Linked DNA regions of Homo sapiens. The protein of the gene in region 2 purifies or fractionates together with the protein of the main gene of each other region. This does not show direct contact. Each region holds a gene or a part of one and is shown on either strand. Other genes may lie near its edges.

Evidence for each region. The genes of interacting proteins can lie anywhere in the genome.
Region 1: the proteins of MCOLN1 (region 2) and PKN2 fractionate together in Homo sapiens (co-fractionation; one large-scale study listed by BioGRID). This does not show direct contact.
Region 3: the proteins of MCOLN1 (region 2) and PRKAR2A fractionate together in Homo sapiens (co-fractionation; one large-scale study listed by BioGRID). This does not show direct contact.
Region 4: the proteins of MCOLN1 (region 2) and TMEM9B fractionate together in Homo sapiens (co-fractionation; one large-scale study listed by BioGRID). This does not show direct contact.

The regions. Positions count from the first base shown.
Region 1 is NC_000001.11:88,690,773-88,694,272, forward strand, and holds part of PKN2 (serine/threonine-protein kinase N2), read left to right. Parts: intron 1-951; exon of another isoform or gene 952-1,008; intron 1,009-3,500. UniProt on the Homo sapiens protein: PKC-related serine/threonine-protein kinase and Rho/Rac effector protein that participates in specific signal transduction responses in the cell.
Region 2 is NC_000019.10:7,525,624-7,529,123, forward strand, and holds part of MCOLN1 (mucolipin-1), read left to right. Parts: intron 1-815; coding exon 816-983; intron 984-1,137; coding exon 1,138-1,303; intron 1,304-1,896; coding exon 1,897-2,005; intron 2,006-2,240; coding exon 2,241-2,337; intron 2,338-2,534; coding exon 2,535-2,634; intron 2,635-2,973; coding exon 2,974-3,080; intron 3,081-3,197; coding exon 3,198-3,347; intron 3,348-3,477; coding exon 3,478-3,500. UniProt on the Homo sapiens protein: Nonselective cation channel probably playing a role in the regulation of membrane trafficking events and of metal homeostasis. Acts as a Ca(2+)-permeable cation channel with inwardly rectifying activity.
Region 3 is NC_000003.12:48,767,875-48,771,374, reverse strand, and holds part of PRKAR2A (cAMP-dependent protein kinase type II-alpha regulatory subunit), read left to right. Parts: intron 1-3,500. UniProt on the Homo sapiens protein: Regulatory subunit of the cAMP-dependent protein kinases involved in cAMP signaling in cells. Type II regulatory chains mediate membrane association by binding to anchoring proteins, including the MAP2 kinase.
Region 4 is NC_000011.10:8,947,443-8,950,942, reverse strand, and holds part of TMEM9B (transmembrane protein 9B isoform a precursor), read left to right. Parts: intron 1-2,467; coding exon 2,468-2,623; 3' UTR 2,624-3,500. UniProt on the Homo sapiens protein: Enhances production of pro-inflammatory cytokines induced by TNF, IL1B, and TLR ligands. Has a role in TNF activation of both the NF-kappaB and MAPK pathways.

The sequences.
Region 1 (3,500 bases), on a different chromosome or scaffold from region 2:
GATCAAGAAAGCATGGGACAGTGTACTTGATGACAGTAAACACCTTAAATGTGAAGGTAGTGTTGAAGTGCCTCATAAAGATGAGTGGATATACAAGACTTACATAATATTGTTAGGATTTATCTCTTTTAGAAATTTGTCAGTGACTTATCAAATTGGTGAAAGTTTTACTGCCCTGGCTCATAAGTACCTTAATTTAATGGAATGTAGTTATGACAAAATTTGGAATTTATTTTTGATTATAGAAGACATACCACACAATACATGTGCTGAGAGTTTTTTATTTATTTTATTTTTATTTTTATTTTTGAGACAGGATCTCGTTCTGTCACCCAGCTTGAAGTGCAGTGACGTGATCTCGGCTCACTGCAGCCTCTGCCTCCTGGGCTCAAGTGATTCGCCCATCTCAGCCTCCCAAGTAGCTGGTACTATAGGTGTGAGCCATCATGCATGGTTGATTTTTATATTTTTTTGGAGAGACGGGGTTTTGCCATGTTGCCCGGGTTGGTTTTGAACTGCTGGACTCAAGCAGTCCACCTGCCTTGGCCTCCCAAAGTGCTAGGATTACAGATGTGAGCGTCTGTGCCTGGCCTGAGTATCATATATTTTACACATTAATCATACTGTTTTCCCTTCCCTGTAGTTGCTACCTTAGGGATTCTTTAAGGAGGTGTTTGTTCTCCATTTCAGAATTTTCATTGAACAAATTTTATGCAACTTTTGGATTTTTAAAAAATTTGTTAAACATCAGGCACACTGCATTGGATTAATCACCTATCTGTCTGTCAATCATTTTAATAAGTACTCATGGACCACCACTCCCCCTCTCTCAAAACAAGCTAGGAACTTTAACCTACGTATAGTTTTCCTCTATTCTATCCGTCTATTTCCACCTTCTTGTCATCTAGGTCATCATTTTTGAGTCCTGTGTTCATTCTCTTCCTTATATAGTAGTCCCTCCTTATCCACGGTTTCAGTTACCCATGGTCAACTGTGGTCCAAAAATAGGTGAGTACAGTATAGTACTATAAGATATTTATAAGTACTAAGATACTTTGAGAGAAACCACACTCATAACTGTAATTACAGTATAGTTATAATTGTTCTATTTTATTATTAGTTATTGTTAATTGCTTACTGTGCCTAATTTATAAATTAAACTTTAGCATAAGTATGTATGTTAAAGGAAAAGTGTAAATAGAGTTTAGTACTGTTCGTGGTTTTAGGCATTTACTGAAGGTCTCTCGGTGGATAAAAGGAGACTACTGTGTATAGTTTAGTTGGACATATAAATCTAAACATCTTTTAGTTGTTTGTATAGAATTGTGAATATAATCTTTTTGAACTTGATTTTTCACCTGTTATAAATAAGATTTATCCACATTTTTGCATGTTGCTATAGTCATTATTTAAATTGCTATATAATATTTCATTGAGTAAAATATTCATTAACTCTACTTTGGTGGATATTTGGATATTTATCCACTCTCCCTTGTTGGGCAGTTATTTTCCATTTTTTGTTTTGTTTTGTTTGTAATTATAAGCAAAGATCCTATGGACAGTCTGCATGTTTCCTACTGTGCATGTGCCACAGTTCCTATTATATACCTAGAGGTAGCATTGCTGCCTCACAGGGTAGGTGAATGTTCAACTTAAGAGATGATGCAGAACTTTCAATATGGTTGCACCAATTTATATTCATATTAGCAATATATGAAATAAAAGATCCTTTGGTTATCCATCCTCTCCAACACTTGATATTCTCTTTTTAAGTTTTACAAATCATAAGGGTGTAAAATGTTGCCTTATTGTGGTCTTGATGCGCATTTTCCTGGTTATCACTGATGTAGAACACTTCTTTTTATGTTTGTCGGCCTTTTTACGTGGCTTCTTCAGTGAAATTCCTATTTATGTCTCTTGCCTATTTTTGTTTTTCTTACTAGTTTATAAGAGTTCTTTATATTGCTTATGTTAATCCTCTGTGTACATTGTGAATGTCTTCTTTCAGTTCCTAACTTTTTCGCTTTCTTTTATGGAGTTGTGTGGGAGGGACAGTTTTAAATGCCTCTACCTTCTTTGGCAAATATTTGGAATAATTTACATCGTTATCATCAACAGGCTTGTATTTAATATCTATTGTACATTTGGTATAGAAAGGGTAAAGTTATATTAATAGTTTATGGCCTGGGGATTTGTAAACTATCCAAATGAACAGCCATAGGAAGTTGTATAAAATATTGTATTGCTTCACACATGCTAGGCACCCAAATGCTAGGTTGATTTAGTTAATGAGTAAATTCAGAAGCAAAGAAATAGCAAAAATTATACATACACTTCATCAGTTGCTTATTTTCCAATTCCATACCTCTCTGTTGCAAACTACTTATTATTAGTCATTAATAATATTTTATTCTTTTGTTTAAAGGGCAGTATATTCCGTAAGATTATGTGAGTCAGTTATTTAGGTATTTTCATAGCTTGCCATTAAAATGCTGGAGTTGATCAGATTTAATACTGGATATAAAGCAAAATATTAATCTTCTGAACAGTTTACTAGTTCAGAAGTTTACAAACTCGGAATCCTAAATACAGTTTTTGTCATTGCTGTGCATCTTTTGATAAAAAAAATTCTTAAGTCAAATTTGTCCATTGTTTATCATACAGTAAGTCCTCACTTAATGTCATTGACGGGTTCTTGGAAACTGACTTTAAGCAAAATAACTTATAATGAAACCAGTTTCTTTTTTCTCATCAGTGTTCTAAGGAAATGATATTATAAACAATGAAACATTAGCCAGAAGTGGTGATGCACACCTGTAGTCCCAGCTACTTTGGAGGTGGAGGTGAGAGAATGACTTGAGCCCAAGAGTTAAGGCTGCAGTGAGCTGGAATCGTGTCATTGCACTCTAACCTGGGCAGCATAGTGAGACCCTGTCTCAAAAAAAGAAAGAAAAGAAATGATATTGAGCGAAACAGCATTATTAAAGGACCTGAAGCACATTGTTTTTCTTAAAGTCTCAGTTCCAAGAACCTATCAGCAGTGTTAAGTGAGGACTTACTGTAATTGCTTTTCATGCCCTTTTAAATAAATTATTCCCTATCCTGGGTTTAAAAGATAGCTACCCAAGTTTGCTCCTAAGAATCTTGCAGTTTTATTTTTTAGATTTAAGTCAGTTTATCTGGATTTGTTGTTTTTTAATAGACTTCATATTTTAAAGCAGTTTTAGGTCCACAGCAAAATCGAGAGGAAGGTCTAGAGATTTCTCAAATAACTGCGTCCCTACATATGTACATATGCATTATCGACATCCTCCACAAGAGTACATTTGTTGCAGTTGATGAACCTATATTGACACATCATCATCATCCAGAGCCCAGAGTGCACACATCTTGGTGTTGTGCATTCTATGGGTTTGTACAAATGTATAATGACATGTATCCAGCATTATAGTATACAGAATAGTGTCCCTGCACTAAGCTTATTCTCTGTGTTCTACCTA
Region 2 (3,500 bases):
GATAGTTCTCCCTCCCCCATGCCAGACCCTGTGCTGGGCTCTGGGAACCCCAAGATGAATCAGACCCAGCCACTGCCCTAAGTGCTTACTTCATGTTTTGGGCTGACTTTAGCATGTCACCATGCCTCTAATTTTCCCTCTGAAAAGGGACCCAATTGTCCAGGCATGGTGGCTCATGCCTGTAATGCCAGCACTTTGGGAGGCTGAGTTGGGTGGATCATTTGAGGCCAGGAGTTTGAGACCAGCCTGGCCAACATTGCAAAACCCCGTCTCTACTAAAAATACAAAAATTAGCTGGGTTTGGTGGCAGGTACCTGTAACTCAGCTACTCAGGAGGCTGAGACAGGAGAATTGCTTGAACCCAGGGGGTGGAGGTTGTAGTGAGCTGAGATCATACCATGGCACTCCAACTTGGGCAACAGAGTGAGACTCTGTCTCAAAAAAGAAAAGAAAAGGGACCCAGTCATGGTACTTACCCTGAAAGTTTGGGTTTAACACAGAATCGGACATCCAGTAAACATTTAATGAACGTTAGTCCCTGCAGTGAGATAGATGAGTCCCCACCCTGTGTTGTACGGGGGAGGACACAGTGGTGGGCGTGGCATGGAGCTTATGCCAGGAGGTGGGGTGAAATTAATCAAAGCAAAGAAATGCACAAGTGAAATCCGTGTTTGTGGCCCAAGTTAGCAGGGCCCTGCCCCACCCCAGTGGACATCTGCAGGGCCCTCCCTGTCCTCTTCCAGGGCCTGTGCCCTGAGGGAGATACACCCCAACCCCCATCCTAGCCATGCCAACCTCTACTACCCTCTCCCCAGCTCATCCTGTTTGGGCTCAGTAATCAGCTGGCTGTGACATTCCGGGAAGAGAACACCATCGCCTTCCGACACCTCTTCCTGCTGGGCTACTCGGACGGAGCGGATGACACCTTCGCAGCCTACACGCGGGAGCAGCTGTACCAGGCCATCTTCCATGCTGTGGACCAGGTGCTGGTGGGCGGGCAGGTGCTGGTGGGCAGGCAGGTGCAGGTGGGCGGGCAGGTGCAGTTGGGCGGGCAGGTGCTGGTGGGCGGGCAGGTGCAGGTGGGTGGGCTGCAGAGAGCGGGCCGGACTCACAGGCCCTCCCCTTCTCTGCCCACAGTACCTGGCGTTGCCTGACGTGTCACTGGGCCGGTATGCGTATGTCCGTGGTGGGGGTGACCCTTGGACCAATGGCTCAGGGCTTGCTCTCTGCCAGCGGTACTACCACCGAGGCCACGTGGACCCGGCCAACGACACATTTGACATTGATCCGATGGTGGTTACTGGTGAGTGGGCAGGACGAGGCTTCACTGTTGGGAGCCTGAGCTGCTGGGATTAAAATCAACAGCTGTGGCTGGGCACGGTGGCTCACGCCTATAATACCAGCACTTTGGGAGGCTGAGGAGGAAGGATTGCTTGAGGCCAGAAGTTTGAGACCAGCCTGGGCCACGTAGGAAGACCTTGTCTCTACGCACAAACAAATTAGCTGGGCGTGGTGGCGTGCCCCTGTGGTCCCAGCTACTCAGGAGGCTGAGGCAGGAGGATCGCTTGAGTCCGGGAGGTTGAGGCTGCAGTAAGCTATGACCACGCTGCTGCACTCCACCCTGGGTGACAGAGTGAGACCCTGTCTCAAAAAAAAAAAAAAAAAAAAAAAACAAGTATGCTTAGTGTGAGTGTGACTCTTGCCACGTAGAAAGCACCAGATGTTATATTTTAATATGGCTCATTCAGTAAAACATCCGCAGGCCCAGAGAGTGCCAGGCCTGTAGGAATGACCCAACCCTGGGGAAGCACAGGGAAGAAGGCCACTGGGGACTCTGGGGAGACCAGCCTGGCCTCCCCGGCCCCCTGAGGCCCTTCCCTGACTCCCTGTCCTTAGACTGCATCCAGGTGGATCCCCCCGAGCGGCCCCCTCCGCCCCCCAGCGACGATCTCACCCTCTTGGAAAGCAGCTCCAGTTACAAGAACCTCACGCTCAAATTCCACAAGTACTGCCTGCTCACTCGAGGGGGGCCCAGGGTGGGGGAGGCAGCACACTAGGCACTCTCACCCCAGCAACTACTTCCCTAAGGTGGGGACAGGGCCCCCCCGCCCGCGCTGGTGCCTGCTGGGTGAGCACTTCCCCTGCCAGCTGCAGAGTCAGCACGTGGCAGGGGACGCTGGCACTTGGGGCCGGAAGGGACCCGAAGACGCCCCTGACCCTCACCCGAGCCTCCTGCCTAGGCTGGTCAATGTCACCATCCACTTCCGGCTGAAGACCATTAACCTCCAGAGCCTCATCAATAATGAGATCCCGGACTGCTATACCTTCAGCGTCCTGGTGAGGCCCCCCGGGAACCCACAGGGCTCCTGAGTTCCAGGGCAGGGACCTGGTCAGGGAGTGTCTTGGGAGCACTGGCCAAGGGCAAGCGTGCGGGTGATGAGGGAGGGAGCCCGGGGTCTGTCAGGCCACCTGTCATGTGGACCTTGGGGCTTGGGGCTGCCAAGGTTTACTCTGCCCCCAACTGGCCCCCACAGATCACGTTTGACAACAAAGCACACAGTGGGCGGATCCCCATCAGCCTGGAGACCCAGGCCCACATCCAGGAGTGTAAGCACCCCAGTGTCTTCCAGCACGGTGAGCCCCTGAGCCCCAGACCAGCACTGACCAGGGGCCCTGGCCTGTCCTGGGATTCCCCAAGCCCCAGATCAGCGCTGCCTGGGGGCCGTGACCTCCCCAGGAATCCGCTGAGCCTCAGATCAGCACAGACCAGGGACCCCGTCCTGTGCTGAGATCCCCCAAGCCCCAGACCAGCACTGACCGGGGTTCTTGACTCACCCCAAGCAAGCCCTGAGCCCACTGACCAACCAAAACCAGCCGTGCAGCCCCCTAGGTCTCCAGCCTGGCCTGGCACCAATGCTAGCCTCCCAAGGCTCCATGCCATCCTTGGCCCTACCCGCTCTGCCCTCCCCGCAGGAGACAACAGCTTCCGGCTCCTGTTTGACGTGGTGGTCATCCTCACCTGCTCCCTGTCCTTCCTCCTCTGCGCCCGCTCACTCCTTCGAGGCTTCCTGCTGCAGAACGTGAGGCTTCTGCGTCATGTGTGCTGGTGTCCTCCCCGCCTGGCCCTGGGGCGATAAAAGCCAGGGCTTTGAGGGTCCTGTGCCTGGTCAGGCCCTCACCCCGCCTGCCTTCTGCAGGAGTTTGTGGGGTTCATGTGGCGGCAGCGGGGACGGGTCATCAGCCTGTGGGAGCGGCTGGAATTTGTCAATGGCTGGTACATCCTGCTCGTCACCAGCGATGTGCTCACCATCTCGGGCACCATCATGAAGATCGGCATCGAGGCCAAGGTGCGTCCTGCCAACACCCTGGGCCCCAGGTCCCATCCCTGCTGTCAGTGCCTATCCGGGGCCATATCCTCCCCCAGGCCCCCCAAAGGAAGGGCTGGGCCAGATAGGTTGACGCAGCTCCCACCCGCAGAACTTGGCGAGCTACGACGTCTG
Region 3 (3,500 bases), on a different chromosome or scaffold from region 2:
CACCACACCTGTCTTTTTGTTGTTGTTGTTGTTGAGACAGAGTCTCACTATGTTGCTCAGGCTGGTCTTGAACTTCTGGGCTCAAGCAGTCCTCCTGCCTTGGCCTCCCAAAGTGCTGGAATTACAGGCATGAGCCACTGTGCCCAGCCAAATAACACATTCTTTCTTTTTTTTCTTTTTTGAGATGATCTTGGCTCACTGCAACCTCTGCCTCCTGGGTTCAAGCGATTCTCCTACCTCGGCCTCCTGAGTAGCTGGGATTACAGACGTGTGCACATGTGCCACCACGCCCAGCCAATTTTTGTATTTTTAGTAGAAATGGAGTTTCACCATGTTGGCCAGGCTGGTCTCGAACTCCTGACCTCAGGTGATCTGCCCACCTCGGCCTCCCAAAGTGCTGGGATTACAGGCAAGAGCCACCGCACCCGGCCAAATAACCCATTCTTGGATAATCTCTAAGACCAAGTCTCAATGAAAATTGAAAACTGTATATTGAGCTGTAAAACCACCTGCTTTGTGGCTGGGGTATGAGGATTAAATACATGGGCATAAGAGAAGTGACTCCCTTAGTGCCTGGTACAAGGTGGGTGTTCACAGAATGATGGCACAAGCTCCCCATGGCCATGGTGCTACTCACCACCCTTCTTTTCCTGAGACTTCCTTTCCTAAGACTCCTATTCTTTCTATTTCCTTGCCTTTGGCAGTCATTTCCTCTTCTCCTTGCTTTCTTAGGTCAGTGACCTATCAAGATATCCTTTTGGCCTCTACTTTTCTCCTGTTAATTGACTTGCTTTGCAAGCCCAGACTCTTCCAAAGCTTCAATACCACCTCTAGGAAAGTAACTCACAGAAGGTCCTCTCCAGCCTGACTTCTTCTTTGGCCTTGGAAATGCCTTCTGAGGTTGAAGTAGGGAGGATCTGGTGTCGTCACTGAGTTTTTCAAGTTGGATCCTACATTCCTGCTTTTATAATGGGCAGCTGCCATCACGGCCCCTATACGTAGTCTCTTTTGCTTTCTCTTGCTTTATTGAAAGTCAATAGAAGGTTTCCTGGGAAATTCCTGCAGTCACAGGAGAGAGTAGCACTCCTTTTCTCTTTTGAACTTCAGGGGTGTTTGCTTGCCTCTGACCACTTGCTGCCTGTGGGAATTTCCTCTTCACTGCTCGATTGGATGCTCATCAAAGGCTATGTTGATGTCTGGTGCTTTTTTTATATTCTCCACAGCCATGGGAACTGGCCTTGCACCACATGAAAAGAGAGTTTTGGGAAGTGTTAAAGCATGCGTAAAAAGGGGTAGAACCAGCTGGGTGTGGTGACTCATGATGTAATCCCAGTACTTTGGGAGGCCACGGTGGGCAAATCACATGAGCCTAGGAATTCAAGACCAGCATGGGCAACGTGGTGAAACCCTGTCTCTATGAAAAATAAGAAATTAGCTGATGTGGCGGCACATGCCTGTAGTCCCAGCTACTTGGGACGCTGAGTTGGGAGGATCACCTGGGCCTAAGAGGTCAAGGCTGCAGTGAGCTGTGATCATGCCACTACACTCCAGCCTGCTGAGTGACAGAGTGAGACTCTGTCTCAAAAAAAAAAAGTCGCTTGCCGGGCGTAGTGGCTCGTGCCTGTAATCCCAGCACTTCGGAGGCCAAGGTGGGCAGATCACCTGAGGTCAGGAGTTGGAGACCAGCCTGACAAACATGGAGAAACCCTGTCTCTACTAAAAAATACAAAATTAGCTGGGCATGGTGGCGCATGCCTATAATCCTAGCTACTCTGGAAGCCAAGGCAGGAGAATCACTTGAACCTGGGAGACGGAGGTTGCGGTGAGGCAAGATTGCGCCATTGCACTCCAACCTGGTCAACAAGAACGAAACTCCATCTCAAAAAAAAAAAAAGTCGCTGTAAGAGATATTTGTTGTGGTCGGGCACAGTGGCTCACGCCTGTAATACCAGCACTTTGGGAGGCCAAGGCGGGCGGATCATGAGGTCAGGAGATTGAGACCATCCTGGCTAACACGGTGAAACCCCGTCTCTACTAAAAATACAAAAAATTAGCCGGGCGCGGTGGCAGGCGCCTGTAGCCCCAGCTACTCAGGAGGCTGAAGCAGGAGAATGGCGTGAACCAGGGAGGCGGAGCTTGCAGTGAGCCGAGATTGTGCCACTGCACTCCAGCCTGGGTGGCAGAGCGAGACTCTGTCTCAAAAAAGAAAAAAAAAAAGAAAGATATTTGTTGTTTTCTCTTTAGTTAGAAATCTGTTGTTGTTGTTGTTGTTTTTGAGATGGACTCTTGCTCTGTCATCCAGGCTGGAGTCCAGTGGCATTATCTCGGCTCACTGCAACCTCCGCCTCCAGGATTCAAGCAATTCTCCTGCCTCAGCCTCCTGCATAGCTGGGATTATAGGCATGTGCCAACAGTACTGGCTAATTTTTTATATTTTTGGTAGAGATGGGAATTCACCATGTTGGCTAGGCTGGTTTCGAACTCCTGACCTCAAGTGATCCACCCACCTCAGCCTCCCAAAGTGCTGGGATTACAGGCGTGAGCCATGCGCCCAGCCGAAATATTGTTTGCTATTGCAATTGTACTAATCTTTGTTACACTGTAGGTGGATTTGTAAAATATTGGGAGTTAACTTTGCTGCCCTCTGTGTATTTTTTAATATTTATTTATTTATTTATTTTGAGACGGAGTCTCTGTTGCCCAGGCTGGAGTATAGTGGTGTGATCTCGGCTCACTGCATCCTCTGCCTCCAGGGTTCAAGTAATTCTCATGCCTCAGCCTCCCAAGTAGCTGGGACTATAGGTGTACACCACCATGCCCAGCTAATTTTTGTATTTGTAGTAGACACGAGATTTCACCATGTTGGCCAGGCTGGTCTCGAACTCCTGACCTCAAGTGATCCACCCACTTTGGCCTCCCAAAATGCTGGGATTATAGGTGTGAGCCACTGTGCCAGGCCTTTTATTTTATCTATCTATGTATCTATGTATGTGTGTGTGTGTGTCTGTCTGTCTGTCTCTCTGTCTGTCTATATCTATCTATCTATCTATCTATCTATCTATCTATCTATCTATCTATCTTTTGAGACGGTCTCACTCTGTTGGCCAGGCTGGAGTGCAGTGGTGCTCTCACACCTCACTGCAACTTCGCCTCCCAGGGCTCAAGCAATCCTCCCACCTCTGCCTCCCCAGTAACTGGGACCACAAGTGCACGCCACCACGCCTGGCTAATTTTTGTATTTTTTGTACAGATGGGTTTCGCCATGTTGCCCAGGCTGTTCTCAAACTTCTGGGCTCAAACAATCCACCCACCTCCCCACCTCAGCCTCCCAAAGTGCTGGGAATACAGTCGTGAGCCACTGTTCCCAGCCTGTATGGGTTTTTTTTAAATAAATAAATAAAATATTGGGGTTTTCTGTTTTTGTGGGGTTTTTTTGTTTGTTTTTTTTTTTGAGATGGAGTCTCGCTCTGTCTCCCAGGCTAGAGTGCAGTGGTGTGATC
Region 4 (3,500 bases), on a different chromosome or scaffold from region 2:
TAAGTGAATTTTAATTTTTAAAACTGTTGCTTATCCAAGATGTGAGTTCTGCACTATTTATATACTTTAAAAATGTTTTTGTTGAACTATCAGTTTTCATTTTTTCTGTTTTTGTTCAGTGTAGAGCATTTTAAAGCAAATAAAAGTGAGTACAAATAGTTAAGCTCACTGCAAGTAGTCACAATATTTACTATATCATATATCCATGACACATCATCGTTATTACCAAAGCATTACAGTAAAACATGTTTTGTATTTATTGTAATTTTATCAGGTGTGAAAAGAACAAACATAAAAAGGGTAAATCTCTATTTGCATTCCCCCAGCATCTGTGACCATGAGCAGCTAGTTCAATCTCGTTCTGATGGATAGAGAGCAGACCCAAAGGATTAGCTGGTTTGTTTAGTCTTTTGAACTTGTTCCTTAAGAAGATTTTTCTCCCCTACCTTGAAGAATAGATAACAGCACTAGGCAACTGAGAGGTCCTCTGCCGATCAAGTACATCCTTCTTCCCAGTATTGCTTATGTCAAAACAAACCAATGGTGATAATATTTTCCTCCTCTGGTCCTTGACTTCAGGGGATGATATTTTATACACAAATTCACTGAAGCACCATATTCTTATAGTGTCATTTTAATCTACCTGACCAAAATCTGTTTTGAGACAATATAACACCAAGTCAGGGTTAGGCAGGCTAAGTTTTAGTCTTTATGCTAATTTGTTAAATGACCTTGGGTCAATTTATTGCCATAATGGAAAATCAAGCAATTCTATAACTTTAGCCTGCCTCCTTTTTTTTTTTCTTTTTTAGCTTTTTTCTTACATTTTTTAAAACATTTTAAGCCTCATGAAATTGCCTTTATTATTTTCATTTGTAAGGTTAAAAGTTTAAAAATAGGCTATAGGTCCCAGCTACTTGGGACGCTGAGGCAGGAGGATCACTTGAGGCCAGGAGTTCAAGGCTGCAGTGAGCTGTGATCACACCTGTGAATAGCCCCTGCCTTCCAGCCTGGGCAACATGGGTAGACCCTATTTCAAAAAAAAAAAAAAAATTAAGTTCATGGCCAGTCTGGGCAATATAGTGAGACCCCATCTCTTTAAAAAAAAAAAATCCACTTTTTAAATAACTTGAGTTTTAGGATTTGTACAAGCCATTACCTAAATAAAGTGAAAAGTTGAAGGAATTTTGACAAAGAAGAGGAGGAAAGATTCTTTATAAAAACTCTTTGATATCTTTCAAATGTAGACATTGTATAAATGCCTTGCTATAAAAACAAGACCAGGTGTTCTAACTCCTATAATTATAGTTGTATATATAGTTATGTGGTTATGTATATAGCTTTCCATATACATGCAGACTCCTGCCCTGGATATATAATAGAGCTTTTTCAAACATGCACAGCAAAATAATGTTGTTTCTCTCCTAGAGGCAAAGTTTAGTATAAGAGGTACAACTTGTGACTTGGATCTTCTGTTGGAACATTGAGAAGCTTTGCTAACACGGGGTTCAAGAAAAAGAGATCAAGGAAAAGGCAAACAAAAGCAATAAATTACTATTGAATGCTTTTTGTCATTTAGACAGCTGTGTTTATATCTCATTCATAGATAGATTAGCATGGTGGTTTCCTGTGTAATGACTACAAACATCCAGTTGTACTCGTTTACTTTGACCAGGTTAGGTTGGTTTTCTATACAGATACCTGGGCAACCCTTCAATAGCCTCTTTCCCAAGGCAGCAACTTACATGGAAGCCACTGGGTGCTTAACAATGGAAGATTCAATCTTTGTTGAATAGAGAGGGTGATTGTAGCACTTGAGCTGTGTCTCTTTTCATTACACATTGGGGAAGTGGGGAAATGAGGAAGCTTTTGGAAGCTAATCCATTTAGTGTGTGTGTTGAGGGTACAGGGAGAGATTAAAAACAACCCAAGATAAGACTCTGTCGCTCACCCTCCCAGAGTGATGTGGCCCCAAGCTGGCAAGAAAACAATTCTAATGGAGACAGGAAATTAAAAGACAGATCTTTCCTCTGCCACAGATTAGCTTTATAGTATCGAATAAAGCAAGGAAAGACCCTACTTTCCATATCTATAACATGGAGAGATGTTAACATGAAAATAGATTTTCTTTTCCCTATCAGTTAAGGAAGGCTTCTCTTTAACACAAATGACCACTGTCTTTTGCTTGGTCTCCACTTCTTTAAGGGAAATATCTTTGGAAATGGCAATCCATGGGAACGTTTCACAAATACTCTGTCATCGCTTATGTTTCTTGAACCACCTAGGTCTGTACTTGAGTTCATACTCTATCTGGTAGTTGAGCGCTTAGGAGTGCTTAGCTAAATAGATGCTCTGTTGTTTGAAAAGTCCACCTACCCCTATTTCTGTGGCGGGCTGGTCACTGTTGTGTGTCTATGTTTTACACTGACTGTGCCATCTCTAATGTTCTCCATTCCTGGACTTTTAGGATCACCAGCCTTTTGCAAATGCACACGATGTGCTAGCCCGCTCCCGCAGTCGAGCCAACGTGCTGAACAAGGTAGAATATGCACAGCAGCGCTGGAAGCTTCAAGTCCAAGAGCAGCGAAAGTCTGTCTTTGACCGGCATGTTGTCCTCAGCTAATTGGGAATTGAATTCAAGGTGACTAGAAAGAAACAGGCAGACAACTGGAAAGAACTGACTGGGTTTTGCTGGGTTTCATTTTAATACCTTGTTGATTTCACCAACTGTTGCTGGAAGATTCAAAACTGGAAGCAAAAACTTGCTTGATTTTTTTTTCTTGTTAACGTAATAATAGAGACATTTTTAAAAGCACACAGCTCAAAGTCAGCCAATAAGTCTTTTCCTATTTGTGACTTTTACTAATAAAAATAAATCTGCCTGTAAATTATCTTGAAGTCCTTTACCTGGAACAAGCACTCTCTTTTTCACCACATAGTTTTAACTTGACTTTCAAGATAATTTTCAGGGTTTTTGTTGTTGTTGTTTTTTGTTTGTTTGTTTTGGTGGGAGAGGGGAGGGATGCCTGGGAAGTGGTTAACAACTTTTTTCAAGTCACTTTACTAAACAAACTTTTGTAAATAGACCTTACCTTCTATTTTCGAGTTTCATTTATATTTTGCAGTGTAGCCAGCCTCATCAAAGAGCTGACTTACTCATTTGACTTTTGCACTGACTGTATTATCTGGGTATCTGCTGTGTCTGCACTTCATGGTAAACGGGATCTAAAATGCCTGGTGGCTTTTCACAAAAAGCAGATTTTCTTCATGTACTGTGATGTCTGATGCAATGCATCCTAGAACAAACTGGCCATTTGCTAGTTTACTCTAAAGACTAAACATAGTCTTGGTGTGTGTGGTCTTACTCATCTTCTAGTACCTTTAAGGACAAATCCTAAGGACTTGGACACTTGCAATAAAGAAATTTTATTTTAAACCCAAGCCTCCCTGGATTGATAATATATACACATTTGTCAGCATTTCCGGTCGTGGTGAGAGGC